Linked DNA regions of Homo sapiens. The protein of the gene in region 1 interacts with the protein of each later gene in a pairwise test. Each region holds a gene or a part of one and is shown on either strand. Other genes may lie near its edges. The genes, in order: BICDL2 and API5.

The links.
Region 2: the proteins of BICDL2 (region 1) and API5 interact in binary tests that used the Homo sapiens proteins (3 or more experiments, as listed by UniProt).

What each region holds. Positions count from the first base shown.
Region 1 is NC_000016.10:3,030,123-3,045,408, forward strand, and holds the start of BICDL2 (BICD family-like cargo adapter 2), read right to left. Parts: upstream 6,823-15,286; 5' UTR 6,772-6,822; exon of another isoform or gene 5,405-6,771; 5' UTR 5,375-5,404; coding exon 5,093-5,374; intron 4,873-5,092; exon of another isoform or gene 4,776-4,872; intron 2,972-4,775; exon of another isoform or gene 1,375-2,971; coding exon of another isoform or gene 1,288-1,374; intron 1,029-1,287; coding exon 813-1,028; intron 691-812; coding exon 574-690; intron 474-573; coding exon 327-473; intron 1-326.
Region 2 is NC_000011.10:43,316,085-43,331,048, reverse strand, and holds part of API5 (apoptosis inhibitor 5), read right to left. Parts: intron 12,629-14,964; exon of another isoform or gene 12,567-12,628; intron 12,410-12,566; coding exon 12,248-12,409; intron 10,229-12,247; coding exon 10,135-10,228; intron 9,639-10,134; coding exon 9,573-9,638; intron 9,065-9,572; coding exon 8,913-9,064; intron 7,620-8,912; coding exon 7,413-7,619; intron 4,543-7,412; coding exon 4,438-4,542; intron 3,261-4,437; coding exon 3,171-3,260; intron 2,338-3,170; coding exon 2,156-2,337; intron 1,085-2,155; coding exon 991-1,084; intron 542-990; coding exon 485-541; intron 1-484. UniProt on the Homo sapiens protein: Antiapoptotic factor that may have a role in protein assembly. Negatively regulates ACIN1. By binding to ACIN1, it suppresses ACIN1 cleavage from CASP3 and ACIN1-mediated DNA fragmentation. Also known to efficiently suppress E2F1-induced apoptosis.

The DNA.
Region 1 (15,286 bases):
AACATCAGACACCGCATCCTCTTTTCATTTCTTTTTCTCCGTCTCCATTGCGCAGCCGTGGTCTAGGGGCTGTCATTCCTGGCCTGAGCTCTGGCACCAGCCCCCTCCCTGCTCTTCCAGCTGCCAGGCTCTGATGCACTCTAAGAGCATGCCTCACCTGCTCAACAGCCTTCCGTGGCTCCCATTTGCCCATGGGCTAATGCCCATGCTCTTGTGGGCCAGCCTCTGGGCCTCCCAGTGATCCAGCTCCGGCCTCATCTCCCAGAAAGCCCTGAAGCCATTGCTAAGGGTCCAGGCAGTTGTAGTCCCCCAGCCCTGCAGGTCACCTCCAGGCTGTGCTCCCGCCGCTCCCGCCTCAGCAGCAGCAACTCCTCGTGGGTGGTCTGCAGTCTGCCCTCACCCTTCTCCACCTCCTCACGCAGGCCTCGGATCTGGGCCTCCAGGTCCTGCCGGCGGCTCTGCAGCATCTGGTTCTGGGGAAAGGCCTGAGAGCTGGGGACAGGGGCAGCCCCTCCCAGCCCTCAGCCCGGCTTTTTTGGCTCAGATAATCCCCCAGCCCCAGCTGACACTCACTTCCCCCTGCAGACTCTCCAGCCGCGTCCTCAGCTCTGCTCCAGCCAGTGCCTGAGCCTGGCACTGTCCCCGAAGGGCGTCCAGTTCCCTCTGAAGTTCCTGCTCAGTCTGGGAGGCCTGGGGAGGTGGAAAGAGGGACAGAGGAGCCTCAGCACCAAGCCCAATGCACCTACTCCCCGCTGGGGACCCAGGCATCCTCCCCAACCTTGTCCAGGGCCCTGGGGTCAGGGCCATCCCACCTGAGCCAGCTGCTGGCTGAGCCGGAGGTTCTGCTCGCTGAGCTCGCTGAGGGCCCGTGCCCGTTCTCGCCCACTGTCCTGCTGCTCTGAGCGCTGCTCCCCAAGCTGGGCCCGCAGGGCCTCCACGTCCCCCTCCAGCTCCACGGCCCGGGCCTCCCACTCGGCTCCTCGGGCTGCCAGGCCTCGCCGGAGCTCATGGTTCTCCTGCTGGAGCCGCTGTGGGGGCCAGGGCAGAGGGACAGAGGCAGAGAGGCACCGATGAGACTGGGCAGGCACAGAGAGATGGCGATGGAGGGACAGACACCTAGGGAGAAAGCCTAAGGGGGCCTTGTGTCCAAGACAGACACAAAAGCAAGGGAGAGTGAGGGAGGAAGCGTGAGCAAGACCCAGAGATTTAGAGGGAAGGTTCCGAGCAGACAGGACGCGTGGGCCCGGGGCAAGGGTTGGGGTGGGGGGATCTCTGATGACCACTCACCTCCAGCTGCTGCCGGGGCTTCTGGACCTGAGGTCGCAAGCGCCGTTTTTGGCGCCTGAGTCTGGCAGAGTTCAAGCCCCGGCCCATGGCAGCACACACCTGCTGTGTCCCAGGGGCTCTGGAGGCCTGGACTCTGCCCAGCCCCCTCCCCAGCTCCTCCTAGCCAGTTCCCTCTAATTAACCCTGGTCAGCCCCGCCCTGGCCCAAAAACCTGTCTGACCAGCGGGGGAATGCCCTGGCACACCCAGATGCCCAGCGTGGGGAGGCAGATGAATCGGGGGTTAACCTCTGGCCCACTCTCTCTAGGCCCTCAAAGCGGGATGGGCCTGGATGAAGGTGACAATTGCCACAGCTGCTGCAGCGACTCGCAGGTACCCTGCATTAGGGCTCTATCTGCATTGCTTCATTTCATCCACTAGAGGGAGAATCACTAACGTCCTGGGTTTACAGATGGAACAAGCTCAAGAGTTGCTAAGTGCCTTGCCTAAGGACACACAGTCATTTATTGTTGTTTTTATTTTTTATTTATTTATTTATTTTGAGACAGATCTTTACTCTTTGGCCCAGGCTAGAGCGCAGTGGCACTATCTCAGCTCACGGCAATGTCCGCCTCCCAAGTTCAAGAGATTCTCCTGCCTCAGCCTCCCAAGTAGCTAAGATTACTGGCGTGCGCCACCCTGCCCGGCAAATTTTTTTGTTTTCTTAGGAGAGACGGGGTTTCACCATGTTGGCCAGGCTGGTCCTGAACTCCTGGCCTTAAGCGATCCACCCTCCTCGGCCTCCCAAAGTGCTGGGATTACAGGCATGAGACACCGTGCCCAGCCGACACACAATAACTTCACAAAGCAGGGATGCCAACTCAGGCAGCAGAACTCTTAACCGAATACTGCAGAGGCAACACAGCTTCAGGATTAAGCTGTCAGGTTCAAGGTCAGATTGTCCTGGCTGATGCTCGGCTCTGCTGATGCCTTGTGGCCTGGACACAATATCTCTAAGTCTATCCACCCACACTGCTATCAATCCTCCCACATTTCCTGAGCTCCACTTGTTCTGGGGTCTGCTGTCAGTGGCACGTGAGACCACCAAGTTCACTGCTTCAAGCAGCTTAGAGTCCAGAGGGCATGGACACATGCCGGAGCCAGGTAGTTTCAGGGAGACAGTAAGGGCTGTAAAGAGACCCGGGAAATGATAGAGAGTAAGGAGTGGGGTGGGGGTGGAGGGTCCTTCAAGGAGGACGTCATGTTTGAGTCGACTTCTGCAGGACAAGAAGAGCCACCAGAAAGAAGGCTAGGCATTAAGGAACAGCAAGTGCAAAGTTCCTGAGGGAACAAGCGTGAGTTCTTGGAGGAAATGAAAAGAGCCCTCATTGTCGGGGAGAGGGTGGTTCGGCTGCCCTTCTTGGAGGAGGGGAGAAAGGGGTGGTGCTGCTGTGATGAGGTCGGGGAGGAGCCCAGTTCTCTGGGACTTTTAGGCCCTGGGGAAGGGTTTTGGTTTCATTCTAAGTGTGAGGGGGAGATTCTGGTTGAGGAGTGAAATGATCTGATTTGCAGTTTTTGAAAGTCCTGGGCTGTCCCTTAGAGAACGGGCTCCAGGGGTCAAAGGTGGAAGCTGGGGGCTGGGCACGGTGGCTCACACCTATAATCCCAGCACTTTGGGAGGCTGAGGCAAGTGGATCGCCTGAGGTCAGGAGTTCAAGACCAGCCTGGCCAATATGGTGAAACCCCGTCTCTACTAAAAATACAAAAATTAGCTGGGCTTGGTGGCGCACACCTGGAATCCCAGCTACTTGGGAGGCTGAGGTGAGAGAATCACTTGAACCCAGGAAGCAGAGGCTGCAGTGAGCCAAGATCGCACCACTGCACTCCAGCCTGGGCGACAGAGCGAGACTCCATGTAAATAACAACAATAATAAAAGAGTGGAAGCTGGGGACTCAGGAGAAGGTGGCTGGAGTGTCTGTGGCAGAAGGGATGGAGGCTGTGATCTGTGATCAGCTTGGAGGCTGCAGAGCCGACCAGTGGGTGGTTGGAGTTTAGAAGAATCAAAAGGGCTTGCGGATATTGGGGGGAATTTGTTCACTCAAGAAAGGTTGGCTGAGCGCATTGACTCACACCTGTAATCCCAACACTTTGGGAGGCTGAGGCAGGCAGTTTGGTTGAGCCCAGGAGTTTGAGACCAGCCTGGGCAACATGGTGAGACCTCATCTCTACAAAAAATGCAAAAATTAGCCAGGTATGGTGGTGCATGTGTGCCTGTAGTCCCAACTACTCAGGAGGCTGAGATGGGAGGATTGCTTGAGCTCGTGAAGTTGAGGTTCCAGTGAGCTATGATTGCACCACTGCACACTATAGCCTGGGTGACAGAGGGAGACCCTGTCTCCAAAAAAAGAAAAAAAAAATAGAGAAAGAGTCCAAGGAGGTGCACAGGCTCTGGTCCTCAAGGTTGGGAAGGCGAGGATGGGGACAGCAGGTGATGGGGGCATGGAATCGAGTGCGTGGAATCAAGTGCCACTTGTGTTGAGATGCCCACTAGGTGGCCTGGTGGAGAGGGTTAGCTACCCAGGTCAGGCTCAGGGCAGTGGTTGGGGCCGACGCAGCAGATAAAGGAGGGTGTTCAGGAGACCAGATGTGAGCCCCAGAGCAAGAAGTGGGCCAAAAATAGAACCTGGGCAGAGGGAACTGTTCCTACCTCATTGGGCTGGGCAAGAATCAATGGAGAGTCATGGAAAGCACTCAGCCCAGTGCCAGGCAAGGAGTGGACACCCATGACTGTCGCCTGGTGTTCCGCTATACTGCTGAGGAGCTGGACCCAAGATCCAGAGAGGGCCAGCAGCTGACCCAGGGTCACACAGCTGGACGAGGGTCTGAACCCAGTTTGTTTTTGTTTTTTGAGATGCAGTCTCGCTCTGTCACCCAGGCTGGAGTGCAGTGGCATGATCTTGGCTCATAGCAACCTCTGCCTCCCAGGTTCAAGTGATTCTCCTGCCTCAGTCTCCCAATTAGCTGGGACTACAGGCACACCCCATCATGCCTGGCTAATTTTTTTTGTATTTTTAGTAGAGACGGGGTTTCACCATGTTGGCCAGGCTGGTCTTGAAGTCCCGACCTCAAGTGATCCAGCCACCTCAGCCTCCCAAAGTGCTGGGATTACAGGTGTGAGCCACCATGCCTGGCCTGAATCCAGGTCTTAATCCTCAGAGTTCATGCCTTTTTTCCTTTCCTTTCCTTTCCTTTTTTTCTTTTCTTTCTCTCTCCTTCCTTCCTTCCTTCCTTCCTTCCTTCCTTCCCCTTCCTTCCTTCCTTCCTTTTTTTTTTTTCAGGATCTCACTCTGTTGCTCAAGCTGTAGTGCAGTGGATCATAGAATCATAGCTTACTGCAGCCTCAAACTCTAAAATTCCTGGGCTCAATTGATCCCCCTGCCTCGGCCTCCTGAGTAGCTGAGACTACAGGTGCCACCACCACATCCAGCTAATTTTCTTATTTTTTGTAGAGACAGAGTCTCACTACGTTGCCCAGGCTGTTCTCCAACACTGGGCTAGTGATCTTCCTGCCTTGGCCTCCCAAAGTGCTGGGATTACAGGTGTGAGGTACTGTGCCCGGCACCCAGAGTTCATGTTCTTTGCCACTGGGCAACACTGCCAGGGGGACTGGGCCCAGCTCTGACCTGTTCCAAAGTGCCCCCCTCGCCCGGCTGTCCTCCCCAGCTCCTCTCTCCTTCCCTTGCCTGACTCCCTTCCCTTGTCCTCTCCAGGCCCACCCGTCCTCCCCTGCCCACCCACCCACCCACCCCGTCCAGTGCTAGCTCACTTCCTCACGCTCCAAGTGCTGGGCGCTCAGCGTCTCCAGCTGCCGCCGCAGCTCTTCATTTCGCTCCAGAAGCATCTTGCCGAGCTCCGCGGCCAACAGCAGGTCTTTCTCCTTCTGCTGCAGCTGCAAGGCTAGGTCCTCGGGCTCCTCAGGCCCTGGGCCCCCTCCCAGGAATGAGTCCCGCCGCTCCAGCACAAAGGGGAAGAAGCCCTCGTCGCCGCTGGGAGAGGCGCCCCCTGAGAGCGGCCCGGACGGGAAGCTGGGCCCATCTGGAGAGCTCATGTCACCTGCAGCATCTGCGGGGACAGGTGGCTGCGGGACACTCTACTCTGCAGCCTGACAGGGGCTCACCCTCCGCCCAGCACCTGGCCCTCCAGGAATTCTCCACCTGCTGCCAGCCTGCCCGGTCCTGCAGCCAGGGCTTCCTGGGCCACAAAGGGTTAATGACCTGTGTTTTGGCTACCCAGTTCCGTTAATGTCCCTGGGGTAAACTGAGGCAGGAAGCAGAAGGAAATGACCTGCCCAGCCTTTGGCCTCTGCCAGACAATCTCTGTCCCCAGGAAAGCTCATTCCAGTGCTCCAGGGCCACAGGCCACCTCTGCTCCCTGTCCCCTCTCTTCCCAGAACCCAGCAGTTTGGCTTGTAGCCCCTCGCCATCTGAGACAGTTCCCAGAACCCAGGTTCTCAGGGACTCAGCAGTTGGAGTTGGGCCCAGCCTCTTCTCTCAGGAATGCAGGACCCTAAGGCTTGGGAACTGAGGTATCTTCGCCCCCAGGAATCCAGCTCCTTCCCCTGCCAGAAGCCCAGATCCCAGCCCCTGACCTCCCGGGTCTCTCGCCCTCATTCTCCTGCTACCTCCTGAGCAGGTGCTTTGACTCCACCCTCCAGACTCAGAGGTCCCCACCTCCAATGTCCCCCACCAAGGATTCCCACCCCAGTCCCCATTTTCCACGGGACTCAGGCATTCATGCCCCCACCCCTCCGGACTCAGGAGCCCTGACCCTCAGCCCCCCAGTTTCCCAGGGCCCTGGCGTGGGGCCCAGGACAGGGCGAGGTAACAGGTTGTGCCGGCCGCCCGGCCGCAGCGCGGCTCGGAGTTTCTGTTTACTTCCCGGTCCGCCCCTGGGGACGGGAGCCCTGGGCTCCCCTAGGGCGGCTCAGGGGCTGGGGTTCAGGGGCTCGGGTCAGAGGGCCCGACACAACAGCTTTACCAGCCCCAGCCCTCCGGGGGCTCACCACCCACTAGGCACACACACCCGTGCTCTCCCTCCTCCTCTCGCCCGGTGTCCATGTGCAGCCCTGCTCGCAGGACGTGAGTGTCACGGTGGTCCCAGCCCAGCCGCCCCCAGGCCGCTCCCGGGGACCTCCCTGACTTGGCCCTCGCGGGCCCCGCTCCCCCGCCCCCCTCCACGCGAGAGACAGGGACCTGGAGACCGCTCCCCCTCCCCTTCCGCACCTAGCTGCCCAGGTGTTGGGGCCTCCAGCCCCAGGCGTCGGAAGCCCAGAGAAGCGGCTGGGCTCACCCCCGACGGCTGAGTTCCTGCCGGCGCCCCCGGTTCCCCGGCGATCCCGGTTCCCCTGCCCCCGCCCCGGCTCCCCCACCTTCTCCGCCGACGCGGCCGGACCAGGCCCTCCCCAGGCTCGAGGGGCCCGGCCCTCGGCGTCCCCCAGGCTCTCACCCGAAGCCGCCGGGCTCCCTCCGAGGTCCCCGCGGTCTCCGGTCCCCTCTTCCGGAGGCGGCTCCAGGTGTGCGGCCAACACAGGTGAAGGGGCGGGGCCGCGGGAGGGGCCGGGGCGCTCCCTGGCTGCCTGAATGGCCGGGCGGGGTCGAGGGAGAGTCGCTTCCACCTGGGTGGGGGGCACTGGCCCAACCTGCTGTGGTTGCAAATGGCCCGGCCAGTTAACTGAGCATCTACTGTTTGCAGATCCTACATTGAGGTAGCCTCCGCTCCTTTCCCGTCACGACTGCCTTGCCCTGTGGGGCAGGAAATTATTAGCAATGACAACAACACCGAATCTGACATCTTAAGCATTCTGCTAAGTAAACTCTTTTTTATTTTTTAGAGATGGGATTTTGCTCTGTCACGCAGGCTGGAGTGCAGTGGCACCATCACTGCAGTCTCGTCCTCCCAGGCTCAAGCGATCCTCCCACCACAGCCTCCCCCGTAGCTGGGACTGCAGGTACATGCCACCATGCCCAGCTAATTTTTGTACTTTTTGTAGGGGTGGGGTTTCACCATGTTGCCCAGGCTGGTCTCAAACTTCTGGATTCAAGCAATCCTCCCGCTTCGGCCTCCCAAAGTGCTGGGATTACAGGCATGAGCCTCTGCTTCTGGTCAAGTAAACTCTTTTATAGGCATAACTTGTTGACCTTTTTTTTTTTTTTTGAGATGGAATTTTACTCTTCTTGCCCAGGCTGGAGTACAGTGGTGCCATCTCAGCTCACAGCAGCCTCCGCTCCCGGGTTCAAGTGATTCTCCTGTCTCAGCCTGGTGAGTAGCGGGTACTATAGGCATGCACCACTACATCCAGCTAATTTTGTATTTTTAGTAGAAATGGTGTTTCAATGTTTTGGCCAGGCTGGTCTCAAACTCCTGACCTCGTGATCCGCCCACCTCAGCCTCCCAAAGTGCTGGGATTACAGAGTGAGCCACCTCCCCGGCTCAACTTGTTGACTTTCATGATGACCTGATGACGAGGAACTGCTGTCATCCCCATCTTACAGATGAGGAAGCTGAGGCTCGGAGGCGGAGGGGGGTCCTCCACCTTGTTTGGGGTCCCCTGGTCAGAACTGGAAGGTGAACAGCACAAGTGTGGCTTTAGGGTCATGCTCTTTACTGATTCCCATGCCGCAGACAAGGACACTGTAGCCCAGGCAGTGAGAGTGACTTGCCCAGAGCCATGCCCGAGTCCGTGTGGCTCCACACCTGGGGTTCTCAGTTCCTCAGTTATGCAGAGCTGGGGACCGTGCTCTTGTCTGGGACAGGGGCTTTGGTGTGGAGATGGGAAGGTCCGGGGCTGGGGACCCAGGGTGGCTTGGGCAGCAGTGATGCCCCATCCATGGCCTTGTGTCTTGTCACGATTTATCTCCAGACTCCAGGGCTCCCTGGGCCTCGTGACAGGGGCTCCTGGCCTGGAGAGCAGGACAGATGGAAGGCTGGGAGCAGTGGCGTGCTGGTAAGCGTTTAACAACAGGCTCCCCGGCTAAAACAATAGCCCTCGCTCGTTGCATTTGCCAATATCCATGATGCAATACCTGCTCCTCGGCTGACTTCCAGCTACTCACCTGGCGTCACGGAGTGCAGAGGTAGAAGGGGCTGTGCACATCAGCTCTGGCTGGCTGGTGTCAGCTGGGTCCGTGCACCTCTGGCTGGGGATCAGGACTCCTGAGTCTTGGGGGACTGGGGGCTACTTACTTGGGTTCTAGAAAAATAGGAGGAGGGTGGGGGCTGGGACTCCTGGCTTGTGGGAAAAGGGGAGCAAGGACTCCTTGGAGGGGTGACTTAGGAACTGGGACTCCTGGGTCCTGGGGCTGGGACAGGGTTTTCTGCCAGCAGAGAGTAGGGGAGCCAGAGATTTGTCTTACAGCCACATTGCCCAGCAAGCCTGACACTTTCTCCCACTGCACCTGTGGGAGCAGCCTGGTAGCCACTGGAGGACTGAAGACATCCCAGCCTCCCCTGGGTGCTGCTATGTGACCCTCTGGAAATAGAAGCTCAGTGTCCCCTCCAAATGCCAGTCACCCTGGGCCCCACTCACACCCACACGTAGCACATCTTGAGCGCCTCCTGCCAGGCTGAGCTCATCCCAGGATGAAGTGATTACAGCCCTACTCCCAGAAGGTTCACAGTCCACCTGGGCCATGGGAGGGAGCGTAGACCTATAAACCAGAAATGAACCAATAAAACAGTACAGCAAAGTGCTTGGCCCATGGGTGCTGGCATCACATAGCTTCGGTCCAGGATCCAGTTGGCCACATACCAGATGTGGGTGCCTATGCCCTTCAGCTGATTAACCTCTGCGGCCCTCAGTTTCCCCATCTGTAAAATGGGGATGATAGTTCCTAGCTTATAGGGATGTGAGGATTTTTTTTGAGATGGAGTCTCGCTCTCTCCCCCAGGCTGGAGTGCGGTGGTGAGATCTCGCCTCACCGCAACCTCTGCCTCCCGGTTTCAAGCGATTCTCCTGCCTCAGCCTCCTAAGTAGCTGGGATTACAGGCGTGTGCCACCACACCTGGCTAATTTTTGTATTTTTAGTAGAGACAGGGTTTCACTGTGTTGCCCAGGATGGTCTTCAACTGACCTCAGGTGATCTGCCCGCCTCAGCCTCCCAGAGTGCTGGGATTACTGGTGTGAGCCACCGTGCCTGGCCAGGTGTGAGGATTAAATGAGTGTGAAGTGCCAGCACTTAGTCCTTGCTGGTGATCTCCGCGCGGCCACCAGAGATGACTCACCTGCATGTCATACTCTATTTCATCCTCAGAGCAACCCTATGAGGTCACGCCATTCACAGGTGAGGAGCCCAGCTCAGAGAGGCTAAGTCATTTGTCTGTGGGTACATAGCAGAGCCTTCATCCCAGCTTGCCTAGCTCTCAGCCTCAATCACTCTTGGGAAATTTGTGTTGTTTTTGTTTTTTTCGGAGATAGGGTCTCACTCTGTCACCCAGGTTGAAGTACAGTGGCATGATCATAGCTTACAGCAGCCTCGAACTCTTGGGCTCAAGCGATCCTCCTGCCTCAGCCTCCTGAGTGACTGGGACAACAGGCAGATGCCATCATGCCCTGCTAACTTTTTTATTTTTTGTTTGTTTGTTTGTTTTTTTGAGACAGAGTCTCGCTGTGTCACCCAGGCTGGAGGGCAGTGGCACGATCTTGGCTCACTGCAAGCTCTGCCTCCCGGGTTCACGCCATTTTCCTGCCTCAGCCTCCCGTGTAGCTGGGACTACAGGTGCCTGCCACCACGCCCGGCCAATTTTTTGTATTTTTAGTAGAGATGGGGTTTCATCGTGTTAGGCAGGATGGTCTCGATCTCCCAACCTCATGATCTGCCCGCCTCGGCCTCCCAAAGTGCTGGGATTACAGGCGTGACCCACCACGCCCAGCCTAACTTTTTTATTTTTTGTAGAGATGCGGTCTTGCTACGTTGCCTAGGCTGGTCTCGACTTCTGGCCTCAAGCAATCCTCCTGCCTTGGCCTCCCAAAGCGCTGGGATCTGAGGCATGAGCCAGTGTGCCTGGCTTTGAATATTTGAATCTGGTCCTCAGTCTCCTCTGGACCCAGGAGTCCTGGCCTCCATCTCCCTGTTGGGTCTAAGAGTCCTGGCCACCCAGCATGCAGGGGACCTCAGCCCTCCCCTCACCCCCAGGCTCCCTGCCGATCCCAGGAGAAAAATGAGTAGGAGGGACAGAGTGACCTCAGGGAAGGCCCGGGGAGGCTGGGACATGTCTGGTTAAGAAGGAAGGGATTGGCCGGGCACGGTGGTTCATGCCTGTAATCCCAGCACTTTGGGAGGCTGAGGTGGGTGGATCACGAGGTCAGGAGCTCAAGACCAGCCTGGACAAAATGCTGAAACCCCATCTCTACTAAAAATACAAAAATTGGCTGGGCGCAGTGGCTCATGCCTGTAATCCCAGCACTTTGGGAGACCGAGGCAGGTGGATCACGAGGTCAGGAGATTGAGACCATCCTGGCTAACATGGTGAAACCCCGTCTCTACTAAAAATACAAAAAATTAGCCGTGTGTGGTGGCGGGCGCCTGTAGTCCCAGCTACTCAGGAGGCTGAGGCATGAGAATCGCTTGAACCTGGGAGACGGAGGTTGCAGTGAGCCAAGACTGCACCATTGCACTCCAGCCTGGGAGACAGGGTGAGACTCCATCTCAAAACAAAAACAAAAACAAAAGACAAAACAAAACAAAATACAAAAATTAGCCGGGCGTGGTGGCACGCGCCTGTAATCACAACTACTTGAGAAGCTGAGGCAGGAGAATCAGTTGAACCCGGGCAGCAGAGGTTGAAGTGAGCTGAGATCGCACCACTGCACTCCAACCTGGGTGACAGAGCAAGACTCCATTTCAAAAAAGAAAAAAAAGAAGGGAAGGATGATCACCCAGCCTCACCTGCTCTCCAGCCCAAACAAGCCAGCTTCCAGGGTGCTTAGTTTGGTATGCCCTCCCCGCCTTTCCATCCACCCGCTGAGCCCTGGGGGGTTCTGAGTCTTGGTTGGGAGTTGAGGAGGGGTCTCATCCCTGGGGAAGCCTTGTCAGACCTCACAATGCCGTGGGAGTCTATGCTAGGCATCCAGAGGCCAGCAGAACCCCACTCTCCTCTTGCCCTTCCCCAGAAGCAGTCTGGTAGAAATAACTTGGGTCCAGACCCAGGTGCCTCCAGGCTTTTATGACGTATGCTAAGTCCATGAACAGTAGGTAGTATTGTTTGGAGCATTTAAAACCTTTATATATAATATTTCACACTGAATTCATTGTTCTGCAACTTGTTTTTTTGATGTATGCTTATGTTTCCAAGTGTTTTCTCCCACTTATTAAAAAAAAAAAAAATCAGGGCAGGCACGGTGGCTCATGCCTGTAATCCCAGCACTTTGGGAGGCCGAGGAGGTGGGTGGATCATGGGGTCAGGAGTTCAAGACCAGCCTGGCCAAGACGGTGAAACGCCCTCTCTACTAAAAATACAAAAAATTAGCTGGGCGTGGTGGCAGATGCCTGTAATCCCAGCTACTTGGGAGGCCGAGTCAGGAGAATCGCTTGAACCTGGGAGACAGAGGTTGCAGTGTGCTGAGAATGTGCCACTGCACTCCAGCCTGGGTGACAGAACAAGAGTCTGTCTCAGAAAAAAAAAAAAAATCAGCTTTGGCTGAGCACAGTGGCTCACGCCTGTAATCCCAACACTTTGGGAGGCTGAGACGGGCAGATAACTTGAGGCCAGAAGTTTGAGACCAGCCTGGGCAACATGGCAAAACCCCGTTTCTACAAACAATACAAAAATTAGCAGGCCATAGTGCTGTGTGCCTATAGTCCCAGCTACTCACAGGGCTAAGGCAGGAGGATCACTTTAGTCCAGGAAGTGGAGGCTGCAGTGAGCTGAGATTGGGCCACTGTACTCCAGCCTGGGTGACAGAGCAAGGCCCTATCTCAAAAAAAAAAAAAAAAAAAAAAAAAATTCAGCTTTATTGAGGTAGGTATTAGCTTCCTAGGGCTGATGTATGTAACAAAACATCCACCAGCACGGGAAACAGAGCAAGACCCCATCTCTACAAACATAAAGAATAATTAGTGGCACATGCCTGCAGTCCCGGCTGCTTGGGAGGCTGAGGTGGGAGGATCCCTTGAGCCCAGGAGGTCAAGGCTGCAGTGAGCCATGATTGCATCACTGCACTCCAGCCTGGATGAGAGAGCGAGACCCTGTCTCAAACAAAGAAAGAGAACCAAAAAAACCACAAACTGGGTTTACACAACAGAAAAATTATTGTATTACAGTTCTGGAGGCCAGAAGCCTGAAGTGAGGGTTGGTTCCTTCTGGAGGCTCTGAGGGTGAATCTACTCCATGCCTCTCCCTGGGCCATGGTGACTATAGATGCTCCTTGGTGTTCTGTGTCTTGTGGCCACATCAGTCCAGTCACTGCCTCTGCTTTCACGTGACCTGCCCCTCTAGGTCTTCTTAGTCTATGACTGAAATTTCCCTCTTTTATAAAGATGCCAGCCATTGAATTTAGGGCCCACCCTAAATCTAGGATGATCTCATCTTGAGATCTTTAGCTTATGTCTGCAAAGACCCATTTTTCTTTTTTCTTTTCTTTCTTTGAGACAGAGTCTCGCTCTGTCGCCCAGGCTGGAGGGCAGTGGCACGATCTCAGCTCACAGTAACCTCTGCCTCCCGGGTTCAAGCAATTCTCCTGCCTCAGCTTCCCAAGTAGCCGGGACCACAGGTGCGAGCCACCACACCCAGCTAATTTTTGTATTTTTAGTACAGATGGGGTTTCACCATGTTTGCCAGACTGGTCTCGATCTCCTGACCTCGTGATCTGCCCGCCTCGGCCTCCCAAAGTGCTGGGATTACAGGCGTGAGCCACCGCGCCCGGCCAGCTTATGTATTTTTAAGACAGGGTCTCACTCTGTCACTTGGCTGGAATGCAGTGGTGCAGTACCAGCTCACTGCTGCCTCACTGTCCCTGGCACAGGTGATCCTCCCGCCTCAGTCTACCAAGTAGCTGGCACTATAGGTGTGCACCACCACTCCCAGCTAATTTGTGTATTTTTTGTAGAGACAGGGTCTCACTATATTGTCCAGGTTGGTTTCGAACGCCTGGGCTCAAGTGATCTGCCTGTGTTGGCCTCCCAAAGTGCTGGGATTACAGGCATGAACCACCACGCCTGGCCTAAAGCGTAGGCTTTAATTTATACTAGGTAATAAAGTGCCTGACTCCCTTTTTGATGTTTTACAGCTGACAGCTTTAAAGCCCCGTGCCTACCTCTTCTCCTTGTGCCCACATGTGGGCAAGCTGATCTGAAGGCCCTGGTGCCCTCTCCCTCACTCTATAGAGAAATTTAAATTAGGAAAGTCCTGGCTGGTTGGAAGGGACCCTCATCCCACTTTATCCCCTAACCATAATAAAAGCCCCTCCTTGAATTACTTGAACACGGGAGGTGGAGGTTGCAGTGAGCCCAGACTGTGCCACTGCACTCCAGCCTGGGCGACAGAGTGAGACTCCATTAAACACACACACACACACACACACACACACACACACACACACAAAACAACAACAACAAAAAAACCCTCCTTGCTCTCTTAAACCACTTTCAGAGCTGCCTGGGAGCCCACTCTGCTCTCCCAGAAAGCCTCATCGTTGAGTAATCAAACTCTTCTTATTCTCTTGGTGTGTTCGTGGCCTTATTGGTCTCTAATATGAACCAAATTTGGCACATAGGGTAAATCACAAAACATGTTTCTATCTGCAGAGGGTGAATTTCTTTTTATTTATTTATTTTATTTCTATATGAACAAATGCTGCCTCCCCTGCAGAGCATCCGTTTCTTTCTTTCCGTTTTTGGTAGAAATGCGGTCTCAGTATGTTGCCCAGGCTGGGTCTCCCTCAAATTCCAGGCCTCAAAGGATCCTCCTGCCTTGGCCTCCCAAAGTGCTGGGATTACAGGTGTGAGTCACCACACACCTGGCTAGAGCACGAATTTCATCTGGGTCACACCTGGCCAATACTTGGCATTGTCAGACTTTAAAATTTTGCCAATCTGATGACAAACATGGGATCTGTTATGGAGTAAATTGTGCCCTGTCAATATTCTTATGTTGACCATTACAGGAATGGTGGCTCACGCCTGTAATCCTAGCACTTTGGGAGCCTGAGGCAGGAGAAATGGTTGAGCCTAGGAGTTCAAGAAAGCCCTGAGCAACACAGGGAGGCCCCGTCTCTACCAAAAGAAAAGAAAAAGAAAAAAAAAAAAGAAAGAAAGAAAAAACATGGGCATGGTGGCTTGGGCCAGTTGTCCCAGCTACTTGACAGGCTGAGACAGGAGGATTGCTTGAGCCTAGGAGTTCCAGGCTGCGGTGAGCTATGATCATGCTACTGCTGCACTCCAGCCTGGGAGACAGAGCGAGACCCTGGCTCAAAACAAACAAACAAACAAAAAAACCAAAACCAACCAAACAAACAAAAAAAACAAACCAGAGAGAGAAGAAGAATTTGTATGTTAAAGCCCTAACCCCCAGTACCTCAGAATGTGATTATAGTTAGAGATAGAGCTGATAAAAAAGTGACTAACTTAAAATGAGGCTTTTAGGGTGGCCCCGATGATTGACTTCTTACAAGAGGTCAATGACCAGGCGCGGTGGCTCACGCCTGTAATCCCAGAACTTTGGGAGGCCGAGGCCGGCAGATCACGAGGTCAGGAGATGGAGACCATCCTGGCTAACACGGTGAAACCCCGTCTCTACTAAAATACAAAAAAATTAGCCGGGCGTGGTGGCGGGCGCCTGTAGTCCCAGCTACTCGGGAGGCTGAGGCAGGAGAATGGCGTGAACCAGGGAGGCGGAGTTTGCAGTGAGCCGAGATCGCGCCACTGCACTCCAGCCTGGGCGACAGAGCGAGACTCCGTCTCAAAAAAAGCAAAACAAAACAAAACAAAACAAAACAAAAGAGGACGATACTTCTGGGGTGTGCAAG
Region 2 (14,964 bases), on another chromosome or scaffold:
GTATTGTATAATATAATACAAGTGATGGCTACTTTGTGATTTTTTTCTGGTTCTCTCAGGTTATTATTTTTGTTTAGGCTAGCAGATACTTGGGAAGGGTAAACAGAATTGAAAAGTAATTATGGCTTAATGGAAAGGTATACCCTAGCCTACAGTACAGAAAGCTCTCAATTTATTACATAGTCAAGTTTATAAAAAACAAACACAGAAAAACATTTCATTGTGCTACATACCACATGTCCATTCTTAAGAGTAAGCAGAACAGGGATTTACTGGACATTCAAAAGAACCCAACAGCTAATTAAGACCACTAGAACTTAAGTCGCTGAAATTTCTGAGACTGTATCTATCTGTTTCAATGCTTTGAGCCAGAAGAAGTTTGCATGCCTCCCTTTGTTGGAAGTATCTTATGCAAAACTTTTAAATAAATAAATGTATGATTTTATGGTAACTGCAGAAATGTCACTTGGTATTACAGACTTACCTTGATTAAAACATTGATATTGTTTGTTATTTTCAATGCAACGACTTTAATCTTGTTCTACAAAGGGAAAGGAAAATTAAGACAAATTGCCAATAACTTCTATGAGGCATAATCCATTCTGTCATAGAACTAGAGTAATTACACTTCTATCAGAATCACCTCTACAGTCTTTACAGAATTCCTTGGTTTAAATCTATAGATAATGCGTATTCCTATTGCTTGACTCTAAACAAATCTAGATGTAGCAAAGAAAGCAAATAATCTGTGTTCCCTTGACAGGTTAGAATGTAGCTAAAAAATGAGTAAGGTCACATGCACATAGAAGTTGTTTTAAAATAAATCAGTTTAAGTTATAGGAACATAATAAAAATCTAAAATATTTCATTAGGACTGGGATGAAGACTGTTAAATTAGGTGAGATAAGGGAAAATGAAAAACTCCCAACACAAGTCTATATAGTTTGGTATGGAACTAGCAGTTTATGAAATGTGAGCCAGTATTCTTACCTCTTCTGTTTTTAAGGCCTCACCCGTTTTACCCTGGAGAGCTAAGCGAAGTTGTCTGATATAAACTTGCAGGCCCCGTGCAAAGTACTGCAGCCTAAATGAAAATGTATTTGTTAATTAGCAATTCATCACTTCAATTTTGTTTTTAAACTCAATCTTATACTACAGCAAAATGATCCTAAGTGCAGAAATGGTTACATGACCAGTAAATTAAAGAAGAGAATTTTAAGTTGCTTGTTTCTGATTAAGAGCTTCATCAAGTATCAAACTTCTGCCTTACCACACAGTACAGGACAGTAACAGGTAACACATGGCTCAAGCATTTCAAAATTTAAAATGTGAATTTGTTAATGGAACAATTCAATAAGCAGTGTCTTTGTGAAAACTATTTACATTGACTTCTCCAGTGCTGCTTCTCCAGTAACACTAAGGTATTATTAATAACAACAGCTACAGTTTACTAATACCTACTATTTGCCAGGCACCATGCTAAAAGCTGTACATTCATTGTCTTATTAAATTCTTACAACTCTATGAGGTAGGTACTATTATCACTTAACAACTGAGAAAAATTTGGGGGAGCCAAGAGAGGTTAGGGTACCTGCCCAAGATCATAAAACAAGTAGGAAGAGCTAGAGTCCTTTACCCCCCATGGATTTGTTAAGTCATTTCTGTCTTTTAATTTTTTTTAAATTTTACTTTTACTGTTTCTTTTTTCAGAGACATGATCTCATCGCCCAGACAGGAGTGCGGAGGCATGACTGCAGCTGACCGTAACCTCGAGCTCCTGGGCTCAAGTGAGCCTCCCATCTCAGTGTTGCAAGTAGCTGGGACTACTGGTGTGTTACCACACTCCGCTAATTTTTTTAAAGTTATTTTTTATAGAGACAGGATCTTACTATGTTGCCCAGCTGGTCTCAAACTCCTGGTGTCAAGCAACCCTCCTGCCTTGGCCTCCCAAAGTGCTGGGATTACAGACGTGAGCCACCATGCCTGGCTCATTTCTGTCATATGTTTACAAACATGCCCATTTTCTGAACCCTCCAATCTGTATCACTGGGGTAAGGCAGGATGGGGAGCTCTCATAGAACAAAAGCAAAACCCAAGGAACTTCAGGATAGCTACCACCTTTGCCAAGGATTGAGCCACCTCAATCATATATCACCTGATTTTGAAATCTTTGAGCTTTTCTGCATTCAGTTTGGCTGTTAAGAAATCTGGAAGTTTTCGGCCCAACTGGTGAAAACTGTACAACAAACATTCCACATAACTGAACTGTAGCTTGGGTTCTTCATTACCAGCATTCTCTCCATTTTCTGCCTCTTCTGGAGGGAGGGGCATGTATTCCTAAGAGAGAAAAATATACAGATTTTGCAATCTGTTCTACATATTCAAATTATAAACAGATATTCAGGGAATTACAGTGCATGTTTTTAAGGCATGGAGCATTAAAAACTACCAAAACCAGACATTTGGATTTCTTTTTTACTTACTGGATCAATGCTCTAGCCTGTCAACGCTCCATATTAACCTGTTACAGCTGCTGTTACAGCTGCTATTATTAATAATGAAGATTAATGTAGCTATCATTTATTAGGCACTTACAGATAAAGGCACTGATGCTCTGAGAGTTAGGGTAACCTTCCCATGGTAACAAAGTTAATAAACTAAAGAGTCAGAATTCAATCTAGATTTGACATCAAATGCTGATGCTCTTAACAACTATACTATGCTTACTACAAAAATATTTTCTGAACGTAAGTCCATATTGTTTAAGTACTGACTCATTACAAGTGAAGTACTGCCAATGGCATTCAGTATCAGTGCTATAACAACCCAGTAAGTTACATCTGGACGAGTGCCAGATGTTGATGACTCAATTCATGCTAAGGACCTAATGCTTATCACTGTGTTAGTTATACAAATACATCAAATAAGAAAATCACTCAGTGATGCTGATAATGATTTTATCAGATGGCCTATTTTCTCCCTAATTATAAGAAACACCAAGATTAAAACAAAGTAGACAACAACATGTGGCCTAGGAAGCTAACAATACTTATTAGGATTATTGTTTAATTGAAATTTCAAAAACTGGTTCTTGTAATCTAGAAATTAATAATAAATTAGACTTTGAGCTATATACTGACTATCCCATAAGGAAAGGAAAAAGTTCTTACCAATAACTTATCAAATAGTTTCCTTAAATTTGTTTCTAGTTTTTCCATGTCACCACAAAATGAACTCATCTCCGCCAACAATTTCAATACCTAAAACACACAATTCACTATTACTGTTTTTTTGAATAAGCAAGGGTTATGAAATGAGAGTAATTCTAGATAACGATTTAAGACTTTATTTTCAATTATGTTTTCACAGAATCATAACATTTGAAATGGAAGAAAACCTTAGAGATAGATGCAGCCCAACATTTTACTGTGAAGGAAAGTAAAGGTCAGAGATTATGTGACTCGACAAAGTCACAGGGTGTAAGTGGCAGGGCAGACCCTAAAACCCAGATCCCATGATTTCCAATATATCTGTGAGAAGAAGTATGGAAAATAATACATACGACACTTTCTGCTACAGGTTAATGATTGTGCTAATTGCAAGGCAAAAATGATAAATATATTAACTATAAAGACACACTTAGTAAGAACTCTCAACAGCTAAGAACTAATTACTCATGGTTAAGGTGGGCCTCATTTCCTGTTAAATTTAGTCTCTGGATACTTACTCAAAATATTGGTAATGACCACTATTCTCAAGGTTCATTCCTGCATTTCCCAATCCCAGTCTGATGGGCCTAGCCCAGCACATTTGAAGCAAACTACCTTGTCAGTGCACAGTGAGATTCTTCTCTATCCCAAAGACCCATGAGGGAAATGGCACACGCATTTCCATATTTCAGTCCAATTCAATAATCACTATTGGGTGCTTGATTCAAAATCAAGTTTTGTGCCAGATTCTGGGGATACAGAGGTGAATCAGATTAAATGTAGGGAGAGATTATAAACAAATGTAAAGTATTACAGATGCTGTGAAAAAATGTTTACATACATTACAGTTGAGATACAAAGTTGGGAGGGGTAGTGAATTCTATTGAAGAAGGAATAAAGGATATTTTGTGTTAATCCAGTTTAAAATTGGCTCTGTCAGTTATGGATAGAAATGAATGAATTAAACACCTTATTTAAAAATATTAAGGCTACAAAAGTAGAGACTGACTATAATAAAACTACAGGTAAGGCTTTCCCATTGCAGCAAACTTTAATTGAATCCATGAAGCAGTCCTAATGCAATTAATTCTGGTCTAGGGAGATTACTGGCTGGCCATTACCAGACATTTAAACTGCTCCCTTAGAAATCGGATCTAAGTTAGTGGTTTACATTTTTGTTAAAATATAAGAATGCCTTATCAGTGCTAAAGCTGAAATTTTTGCTTACCTCCAACTGTATATCAAGACCTTCCACTGGGGTAGTCAAGGTACCGAGGTTAGGGAGAACCTGCTCACAGAAATATGTCACAAACCTTGTGGAATGGACATTTTTCTGTAAGAAATCCAAAGAAAATGCATTGTCGAAAAACAAATATTCGCTCAAATATTATAGCAGAATTTCATTCAATAAATGCTGAGCGCTACAGCATCAAGTATTCTGACTACAAATACGATATAGTGCACACCCCAGCATGCCCCAGATATAACCTCAATAGGTGATCTACGAAGGGGCTTCAATAAGTTCATGGAAAAATGGAATAAAAAGATAAAGAATAAAAAATATAAACTTTATTTATCAACATAAGCTCCATCAAGGTCAAGACACTTTTGCAGGTAATGATACCAGTCATCTCTGAACAACTGAGGGTCCTGGGAACTTAACCATGTCAATGCAGTCTTTTTTATACTATTAACCAAAGAAATGTGGGTGCCCTTTAAAGATGTTTTTTAAGATTAGGCAACAAAAAGAAATCAGAAGGGCCCAAATAAGGACTTTAAGGTGGATGCCTAATGATTCCTCATCAAAACTCTTAAAAAATTGTCCCTGTTTGATGAGAGGAATGAGCAGGAGCACTGTGGCGGTGGAGAACTCTGGTGATGCTTTCCTAGGCGTTTTCCTGCTCAATCTTTGGCCAACTTTCTCAAAACAAGCTCATAATAAGCAGACATTATTCTTTAGCCCTCCAGAATGTCAACCAGCAAAATGTCTTGAGCATCCCAAAAAACTGCCATAGCCCTTCCTCTTAACTGGTCTCTTTTTGCTTGGACTGGGCCCTTTTCACTTCCTGGCAGCCATTGCTTTGACTGTGTTTTGTCTTCAGAATTGCACTGCTAAAGCCATGTTTCACCTCCTGTTCCCATTCTTCAAAGACATGCTTCAGGATCTTGATCCCACTTGTTTACAATTTCCACTGAAAGCTCTGTTCTTGTCTGCAGCTAATCTGAGTGCAATGGTTTTGACACTCATCAGTAGGAAGTTTGTTAAACTTCAATTTTTCAGTCGGAATTGAATAAGCTGAACCAACTGAGATATCGATGATGTTGGCTATTGTTTCTGCTATTAATCATCGGTCTTCTTCATTTAGGGCATAAACAAGATTAAATTTTTCCTCGCAAATTGATCTGCTGCAATGGGCTTTGACGTTGTCTTGTCCCTTCTTAAAATGAGTGATCCATTTGTAAACTGTTGATTTCTTTGGGGACATTGTCTCCATAAACTTTTCATAAAGCATCAATGATTTCACTATTCTTCCACCAAGCTTCACCATAAATTCGATATTTGTTCTTGCTTCAACTTTAGCAGAATTCATGTTGCTCTGATAGGTGCTCTTTTCAAACTGATGTCTGACCCTTCTTAGTTCCTCAAACTATATCCTGTTCAGACATGTTATAAGTACAAGTTTATTTTGGTGAAAAATGTTTTGTAATCCATGCGTAGTTTTTTTTTTTTCTTTCATAATATGCATTTTCCAGGAACTTTTTGAAGACCCCTTATATACTTTACTGCAAAGTCATCTGGAGCATTGGAACATCTATACATTTTGATCTCTTCCTTGATTCTCTGGTCAAATTTGGGGCATGGCCAGGCATGGTGGCTCATGCCTGTAATCCTAGCACTTTGGGAGGCTGAGGCAGGTGGATTGCCTGAACTCAGGAGTGCGAGAGCAGCCTGGGCAACATGGCAAAACCCCATCCCTACTAAAAATACAAAAAATCAGCTGGGTGTGGTGGTGCTTGCCTGTAATCCCAGCTACTCGGGAAGTTGAGGCACGAGAATTGCTTGAATCTGGGAGGTGGAGGTTGCAGTCAGCCAAGATCATGCCACTGCACTCCAGCCTGGGGGATGGAGCGAGACTCTGTCTCATAAATAAATAAATAAATAAATAAATGAATTGTGGACATCTTTTAGTGTTGGATTTTCAGACTGCACATTTCTCAAAAGGGATAATTCTATTACTTAATTTTTTTTGTAGAGACAAGGTCTTGCTCTGTTGCCCAGGCTGGTCTTGAACTCAGCCTCAAGTGATACTCCCACCTTGGCTCACAAAGTGCTGGGATTGGGATTACAGGGACGGGCCACCACGCCTGCTCTAGGATAGTTCCTTTAAATTGTGTTTTTCAAATGAATGTATGCACATCCCAGAAGATGCATGGCCTCAGGAAACACAAAGCCTGAGACAGAATGCAAAATTCTCATGACTTTCAAAAAAAGTCTCTAGGAAGACTTAAAAAAAATTTATTGGCCACTCATGGTGGCTCACACCTGTAATCCCAGCACTTTGGGAGGCCAAGGTGGGCAGACTGCTTCAGCTCAGGAGTTCAAGACTAGTATGGGCAACATGGGGAAGCCCCGTCTCTACAAAAAACACAAAAATTAGCCGAGTGTGATAGTGCATGACTGTAGTAGCAGCTACTTGGGAGGCTGAGATGGAAGGAAGGCTTGAGCCTGGGAGGTAGAAGCTGCAGTAAGCCAAGATCGTGCCACTGCACTCCAGCATGAGTGACAGGGCAAGACTCTGTCTCAAAGGAAAAAAAAAATTCTTTCTTTCAAGAAAGTTTCTTGCTGCTTTGGGTTCTCACCAACACCACTGTGGCCTTCATAAACACAGACCAAGCATCCCTCATCTGAAAATCCCAAATCTGAAATGCTTCAAAATCCAAAACTTTTTGAGCACCAATGTGATGCTCAAACATCACGCTCAAAGGAAATGCTCATTAAAGCATTTCAGGTTTTGGATTTTTGAATTAGGGATGCTCAACCAGGCACAATGCAAATATTCAAAAATCTGAATACACTTCTGGTTCCAAGCAAGCATTTCAGATAAGGGACACTACTGGAAAGGTTTAAGGGGAATGTTAAAGTGAGTATTTATGGAAATATATATATAGCTAATACCGGGTGTGTAAAAATAAAGAGCTCACAGAGAAGAGGGGTACTGCCTGCCGAGTGCACTGTAAGAGCCTGTCCACACAGTCAGGATCCGAGGGATTGAAGGTCTGTTCTAGGTCGGCCTGTTCAGCCACCAACTCTACAAGTTGCTGTCTTCCACTCACTGTCTGTAAGCTTTTTAACCCAGACAGTATCTTCATAAATAGAACAAATTCTTCACCAGTCACATCTTCTAGGACCTGGAAAAGAGACAATTCAGAATAAGAGTATGTTCATCATTTGAATGGGACAGATCAACACTGAAAGAGAATAGCTAATTTATTTCAGTTACTAAAGTCAGTTTGTTATTAATGCTTCCAAAATACTGACGAAAAGGCAACTTCTAGCTTCAGTCAATTGAGCTTCAGTGTAAACCACGCATTCTCCAAGGGGGCAAAAATTGGTTCTTAGAAAATGTTACTTTTTTACGTACAAAGCACAGATATACATGTAGTACCATAAACAGATATACAGTGTATATGTGGCATTAAAATTTCATGGGAGAGCAGTTAAGAAAAAAAAAAAATTAAAAAAATTGGCTATTTAGGGGAGTGACTTTAAAAAATGGTTGGAAAAATTCTGTAGCAAACTGTTGAATCAGATTGTATCCTATATTTAAAAGCAGCCTAATTCATATTAATATGGTAATTGTTGTATACAAAATAGGTCACCTTGCAAGTCTCATGTTAAATCTTCCATATCAGTGGGTCTAAATCTTTCTATTCATGGACCAAAAAAGCTCACAATCACGACATACTCTACCAGATTACAAGCTGGGGCATAGGTAAAATAGTCTGATACTCCCAGCTAAAGATCTACTTTTTTCTCACTGAAAAATAATCTTATCAATAAGGAAGTGGGTAGTAGTAGTCTGAAATTTCTAAAGCCTGAACCATAACAGTGATCACATGCTTTAGATAAAATGCTGAATCTTCTGTAACATATTAAAAAAGTAAACTATTCCCAAACTTTGGCACATTAAGATGAGTGAAAAGTTAATTGTGACGCACCTTGCCAATCTTAGCGTCTACAACTATGCTAGATGCTGGGAGCAAAGACAAGCATGGTCTCACCCTTGAAGAGCAGATAGTGTCAAGGGCTAAGGTGACAACAGGTCATTTTGATGTGATGTTTCATTTTGAAATAATTTAGAATACTATGAGAGAGTATCCTAAAATGGAAGGGAGGGGTAGGACTTAGGGAAAGTTTCCTGAAGGAGGTGATTTGCAGAGGTTGCACAAATTTTAAGGACACTACCACGAAAAGTTTAAATGTAATCAGATTCCTTTAAATTACCAAATTGATTCATCATTACCACCGACAAAAGTGCTAAATTCAATCTAAGAAAAACTTAGAAGTTCTATGGTGGTTCCAATGGGATATATGATATATCATTTTATACACAAGCCACACATAACATTGACGAATACTGCCAATGTCAAGTATGCTCTTTTGCTTTAGAGAATTTCCACCAAATGAAGACCAAAGCTCACCTTTTTGGATTCAGTTAGTATAAGCTCTTCCACTTCCTTTGTTAAGACTTCATCTGGTAAAGTCTTAAGTTTTGTAGAAAGGAATTTAATTGCTCGTTCTCTAACAATGTCCTCTCCTTGAAGTATTTGGCTGAACAACCCACCTAAAGTCCCTGCAAAACAAAATAGTTGCCTGTAGCAAGTCAATTCTATAGTGTAATGGTGTTTTCCCATTTAACTCAATTTATAGTATTTCTTCTCAAATAAGTTAATGAACTTCCCAAATATCATCCTCATTACTAGTTAAAAGTAGTCTGAAATTTCTACAGCCTGAACCATAAGAGTGCTTTCTTCATGAAGACATAGTCAGCTTAAGCATGACTTTCCTTTTTTATCATTACTAATAATAAAACCCAGGTATTTTGGAAGAATTTCTTGAAAGTGTCAAAAGGAGTTCTTCCAACAGATTTCTAATGGAAAAACGTGATCTGTTTTTGCAGTTATTTCTGCTCGTTTTTCTAGTCATAAACATCTTGACCTAAGGAGACTTTTTTCACAATACTTAGAATTTTTATGAAATAGAACTCTGGGTAAACCCTAGAGTTTATTCTTAATGAGTAACACCTAACTTTGTGATTCTGTAAGACATCAAACACAATTCAGAATAAGAACTGGCCTTACCTTTTGCATCCATTTTAAATATACTTAATAGGGCATTGTTCACTAGGTTAAATTCTGCAGAGTCATCTGGATAAAGAAAAAGTGGCATAATGAATATAAAACAAATTTAAAATATCATCTGCTTCAGTTTCAAACTTGATTCAACTTAGTTTCTCAAGGTTACATTGACAGGAAACTTATAACTTAAGCCATTCCCTCAAGTACCAAAAAGATACGTGTTCCTTGTAAGTTGAGAACCCGATCTGGCATGCCTGAAAAACTTTTATTAAGATGCTACAATTATGAAACTACAGGAAATTGGGGGAAAAATTATGATATATCAAAATGCCCAAAAGAATCTAGTCATTACACCTTCATAACGGAATTAAAAACAAAACAACACCAGGAATTAGATAACCAGAAATCATTACACTTTAACTACTGAATGAAAGTAGGAAATTTAATCTCTATCAGAGGTAGGACCTCCAGCTCTCCTGCACCCCATTTAAAACCTAAAAACAGAGTCAACATTTCAGAAAGAAGATATATATTTAGAGAAAAAGGTAATAATAAAATCCCTTACCTGTCTGCAAAAGTTGCGTTAGTATATCTGCCACTCGAGGAAGATTTTCTCCAGTGGCAAATTGAGGCAGTTCTTTAATTGCTTGACGTCGAATCTGGGCATGATTTCAAACAAAAATTAACCAAATACTATCACCTTTAAAATAACAAACAGCTTTTTCTTTTCTTTCTTTTTTTTTTTTTTAAAGACAAGGTATTGCTCTGTTGCCCAGGTTGGAGTGCAGTGGTGCAACCATGGCTCAATGTAGCCTTGACCTTCTAGGCTCAAGAGAGCCTCTTGCCTTAGCCTCCCTAGTAGCTAGGACTATAGACGCAAGCCTCCACGCCTGGCTAATTTTAAAGGCGGATTTCCCTATGTTGCCCAGGCTGTTCTCGAACTACTGGGCTCAAGTGATCTTCCCACCTCAGCCTCCCAAAGTGTTGGGATTACAGGCATGAGTCACCATGCCCAGCTGCAAACTCAACTTTTTAAGAAAACTAAAACCACAGAGAAGCCATCATTAGGGGCATACGAGTCACAAAAATATGAAACAGCAGATTTCTAGCAGTTTTAAAAAGAATTTGCTCCAATTGGCCGGGCGTGGTGGCTCACACCTGTAATCCCAGCACTTTGGGAGGCTGAAGCAGGTGGATCACGAGGTCAGGAGTTTGAGACCAGCCTTGCCAATATGGTGAAACCCTGTCCGTACTAAAAATACAAAAATTAGCCAGGCGTGGTGGCACACGCCTATAGTCCCAGCTACTTGGGAGGCTAAGACAGAAGAATCGCTTGAACCAGGGAGGCGGAGGTTGCAGTGAGCCAAGATTGCACCACCGCACTCCAGCCTGGCCAATAGAGTAAGGCTCCTTCTCAAAAAAAAAAAAAAAAAAAAAGAGAGAATTTGCTCCAATTTAATCTTCAAGTTACACAGAATAAAATATAAAAAGGGATGTTAACAATGTCTCGCTGAAGGAGACAGATTTGAGATTATAAACAACTATTTACATGCTAATTATATGCAACTGTTAGGTTTTTACTACCTATGGGCTTATAATATAGTATTCCTAAAAAATGGCTACTGTGGCAATGTTATACCTAGTAACTGTTTACTTTAGAATTTTCAGTATTGACTACTAAATACAACATTTGTGGCTATATTCTGCATGTTTAATTCCAAATACTGATCTTGGCTTATTCGATTTTTACATAAAATATGTACAGCGGGCCAGATGAGGTGGCTCACGCCTGTAATCCCAATGCTTCAGAAGGCCAAGGTGGGAGGATAGCTTGAGGCCAGGAGTTTGAGACCAGCCTGGACAACATGGCAAGACCCTACAAAAAAATTAAAAATCAGCTGGGAACGGTGGTCTGTGCTGCTTGGGAGGCTAAAGTGGAAAAAAATGCATGAACCCAGGAGTTCAAGGCTGCAGTGAGCTATGGATGTGCAACTGCACTCTGGTCTAGGCAACAGAGTGAAACCCTGTTTCTATTAAAAAAGCAAAAAAAGTATAGGGTTTATATCCAGCAAATTCTGCATGAAATGTTGGCAATTCGCTGTTTCATCTGAAAAGACAAGAGCTAACGGCTGAATATTCTTAGGAACCTGTGTCAGCAGCCAGAAATATTACTGGTTAATTCTGTTCCAAAAAACCCCCCAAAAACCAAAAAACAAAAACTATTTCTTTTTAATCTAGTAATCCTATTCACTTATTACACATACCATTTTTCTGCCATGCAAAATATATAAGGGTAGTGAAACTACATTTTATGATATAACACTTAATAATTTAAATATCCAAGTAAGCACAAATTGATTAAAAACAGTCTAATTTCATATGCACAATGAATAACAATCTATGAAACAAGATGTGAGCCACAACCCATTTTTAACAGTGGATAAATGATAAGCGAAACTAAGTATTTTGAGATTCTATGCATTTTTCATAATTTAAAGGTGTTGAAAAAGGCTAATACACTTTATCATATGTAAATTTAAGCCTGGGTGTGATGCCATGCCAGACCATACCATAGTATTTTATTGTGTACTCTGATATATCAGATTGCTACTCCAATTGTATCAGCCACATACAGAAACATCTGAAAGATTGCTATGAAGTGTCATTCATAAACTTACAGATACATCTTCATCCTCACAGAGGTCTAACTGTGCATTGATAGCAGAATCAGCCAATTCTGGAAAATGCTTAAAGAATTTCGGAATAAATTGAGCTGCTAATCGCTTTTCCTTAGTACCACCTTTCACACCATCCAATATCACTTGATAGGCATCTTTATGCTGAAATAAAAAATAAAGCAGGAAAGACACATGATTTTGAAGGATGGGAAGCAAAGTAAAAGACCATAACAAACATGTTAGAGTGTGCTTTAAATTTTTACACAGGCTAAGAAATAAAGCTGATTTTGGGAGGTTTACTGCTCAAACTGACACTTACCTTCCCAATTCCGTTCTCCCTCCATCTTTGTTTCATTTTTGAGTTGGGGGAGATGGATGAGTCTAATTTTAAGTGGAAAAAGCAAATGTGTTTGTTAATATGCCAATACTTCTTCATTCTAGTGATTATTAACTCTGGCCATGTGACTGTATCATGCTTAAAAAATTTGTAATGGGCCAGGCGTGGTGGCTCACGCCTGTAATCCCAGCACCTTGGGAGGCCAAGGTGGGTGGATCACCTGAGGTCAGGAGTTCAAGACTAGCTTGGCCAACATGGTTAAACCCCGTCTCTACTAAAACACAAAAATTAGCCAGGCGTGGTGGTGTGCGCCTGTAATCCCGGCTACTCGGGAGGCTGAGGCAGGAGAATTGCTTGAGTCCGGGAAGCGGAGGTTGCAGTGAGCTGAGATCGTACTACTGCACTCCAGCCTGGATGACAGAGTGAGACTCTGTCTCCAAAAAACAAAACAAAACAAAACAAACAAACAAACAAAACAATTGTAATGATGGCCAGGTGTGGTGGCTCATGCCTGTAATCTCAACACTTTGGGAGGCCGAGGTGGGCAATCACTTGAGCTCAGGAGTTCCAGACCAGCCTGCCCAACATGGTGAAACTCCCTCTCTCTAAAAATACAAAAATTAACTGGGTGTGGTGGCAGACATTTGTAATCCCAGCTCCTCAGGAGGCTGAGGCAGGAGAATCGCTTGAACCCAGGAGGCAGAGGTTGCACTGAGCTGAGATCGCACCACTGCATTCCAGATTGGGTGACAGAATGAGACTCTATCTTAAACAAGTAAATAAATAAATCATCATGAATACCATAGAATTCACAAAGAATTGCACTGTATTTACTTAAACAAAAATTTACCTGTTTCTAATTAGCACCTTGAAGAAGGTGAAGGGAATACATTCCAGAAATTTAGCAATTCCAGCAATGTTAGGAAGTGCAGTTTAATTTTACCTCATAGCAGTATATGAAAGCCATGACAATTCACTCCATATAGCCAGACAATTTTGGATTAAGACGGACTCTAATGTCACATGTTTAAACCTTTTATTGGAACAATACACTCAAAGCTCATGTTTCCTTAAAAAAAAAAATCACAGGTGCTCTCCCTCAAATACTCATAATGGGAGGAATCAATAAGTTCCCAATCCTCCTTAAGTACTTGCCTCCAAACCAGTCCTTTTATGAAATGACACTGATAAAGATGGTAAATAACAGTAACAAATACAGAAAGACTACACATATATATTGTTTGGACATATGAATAAAACTTAGTAACTGGAAAAACAACTTAAAAATTATAATCTTGACCAAACATATACACAGTATAGTATTTATTATGTATAAGGAGTGTTCTAAGTGCTTTAGACACATGAGCTTACTTCATGCCATCAAGCGGGGAATGACCAATAAATATCCAATGAACTACAGAATTACCAAATTTATTTTACAGTGATTCTTTTTTGTTGATAATGCTATGTTAAGTGAAAAAATAAAGCAGGATGCAAAGTTACAGAACAACTCCCAAATAACAGAAATTTCTGTGAATAAGGTTAACTTCTTCATGAAATGCAGATATATGAGTCTTCAGGAGTCATCACTGAAAAGTGTATTATAAACACATCAAGACCCTGTCTCTCCAAAAAATATAAAATTAACCAGGCATGGTGGTGTGTGCTTGCAGTCCCAGCTACTGGAGAGGCTGAGGGAGGAGAATCACTTGAGCCCAGGCGATAAAGGCTGTGGTAAGCCATGGTCGCGCCCAGGAGTTAGAGGCTGTGGTAAGCTGTGGTCGCGCCACTGCACTCCAGCCTGACAGAGCAAGACCCTGTCTCAAAGAAAGAAAGGTATATGACATACTTTTCACCGCAAACATTAAAAAAAGAAATCATGCTGACTTCTCTACCACTTTACATTCCTGTGGTTTGCCTCAGACTTCTAGGCAGGCTTCATAAAATCAAAGTTTGTTCTGACACCCTTACTTTTTGCAGGGTATCACAAATCTAATTTTCTTTAACTCAAACTTACTCATAAAGCCATTTGAAGAAACTCCTTACACTGTCCAAAATTAAATGAAAAAAAAAAAACCCTGCTTAAAACAAAACTTCCTTTTGCCAAGAAAAAAATATTAAATCTGGAATCAAATAAAAAGGAATCATTAACAATATTTATTGAAGGTCTACCAGGGACTGAGTGATTCCTTGTCTATATCACAATAGGTGTTACTACTATTCTTATCTTTTAGATGAGGAAACTAGGGCTCAGAGAAGTGAAATAAATATTTCCACATATTTTTGAGGGATTACGAACTTGGTTGGTCAGTGGTTTTAGCTTAATCATACAAAAAACCCTACTACAAGAGTGGTTATTTCATGAAATAAAAGTCCAAGA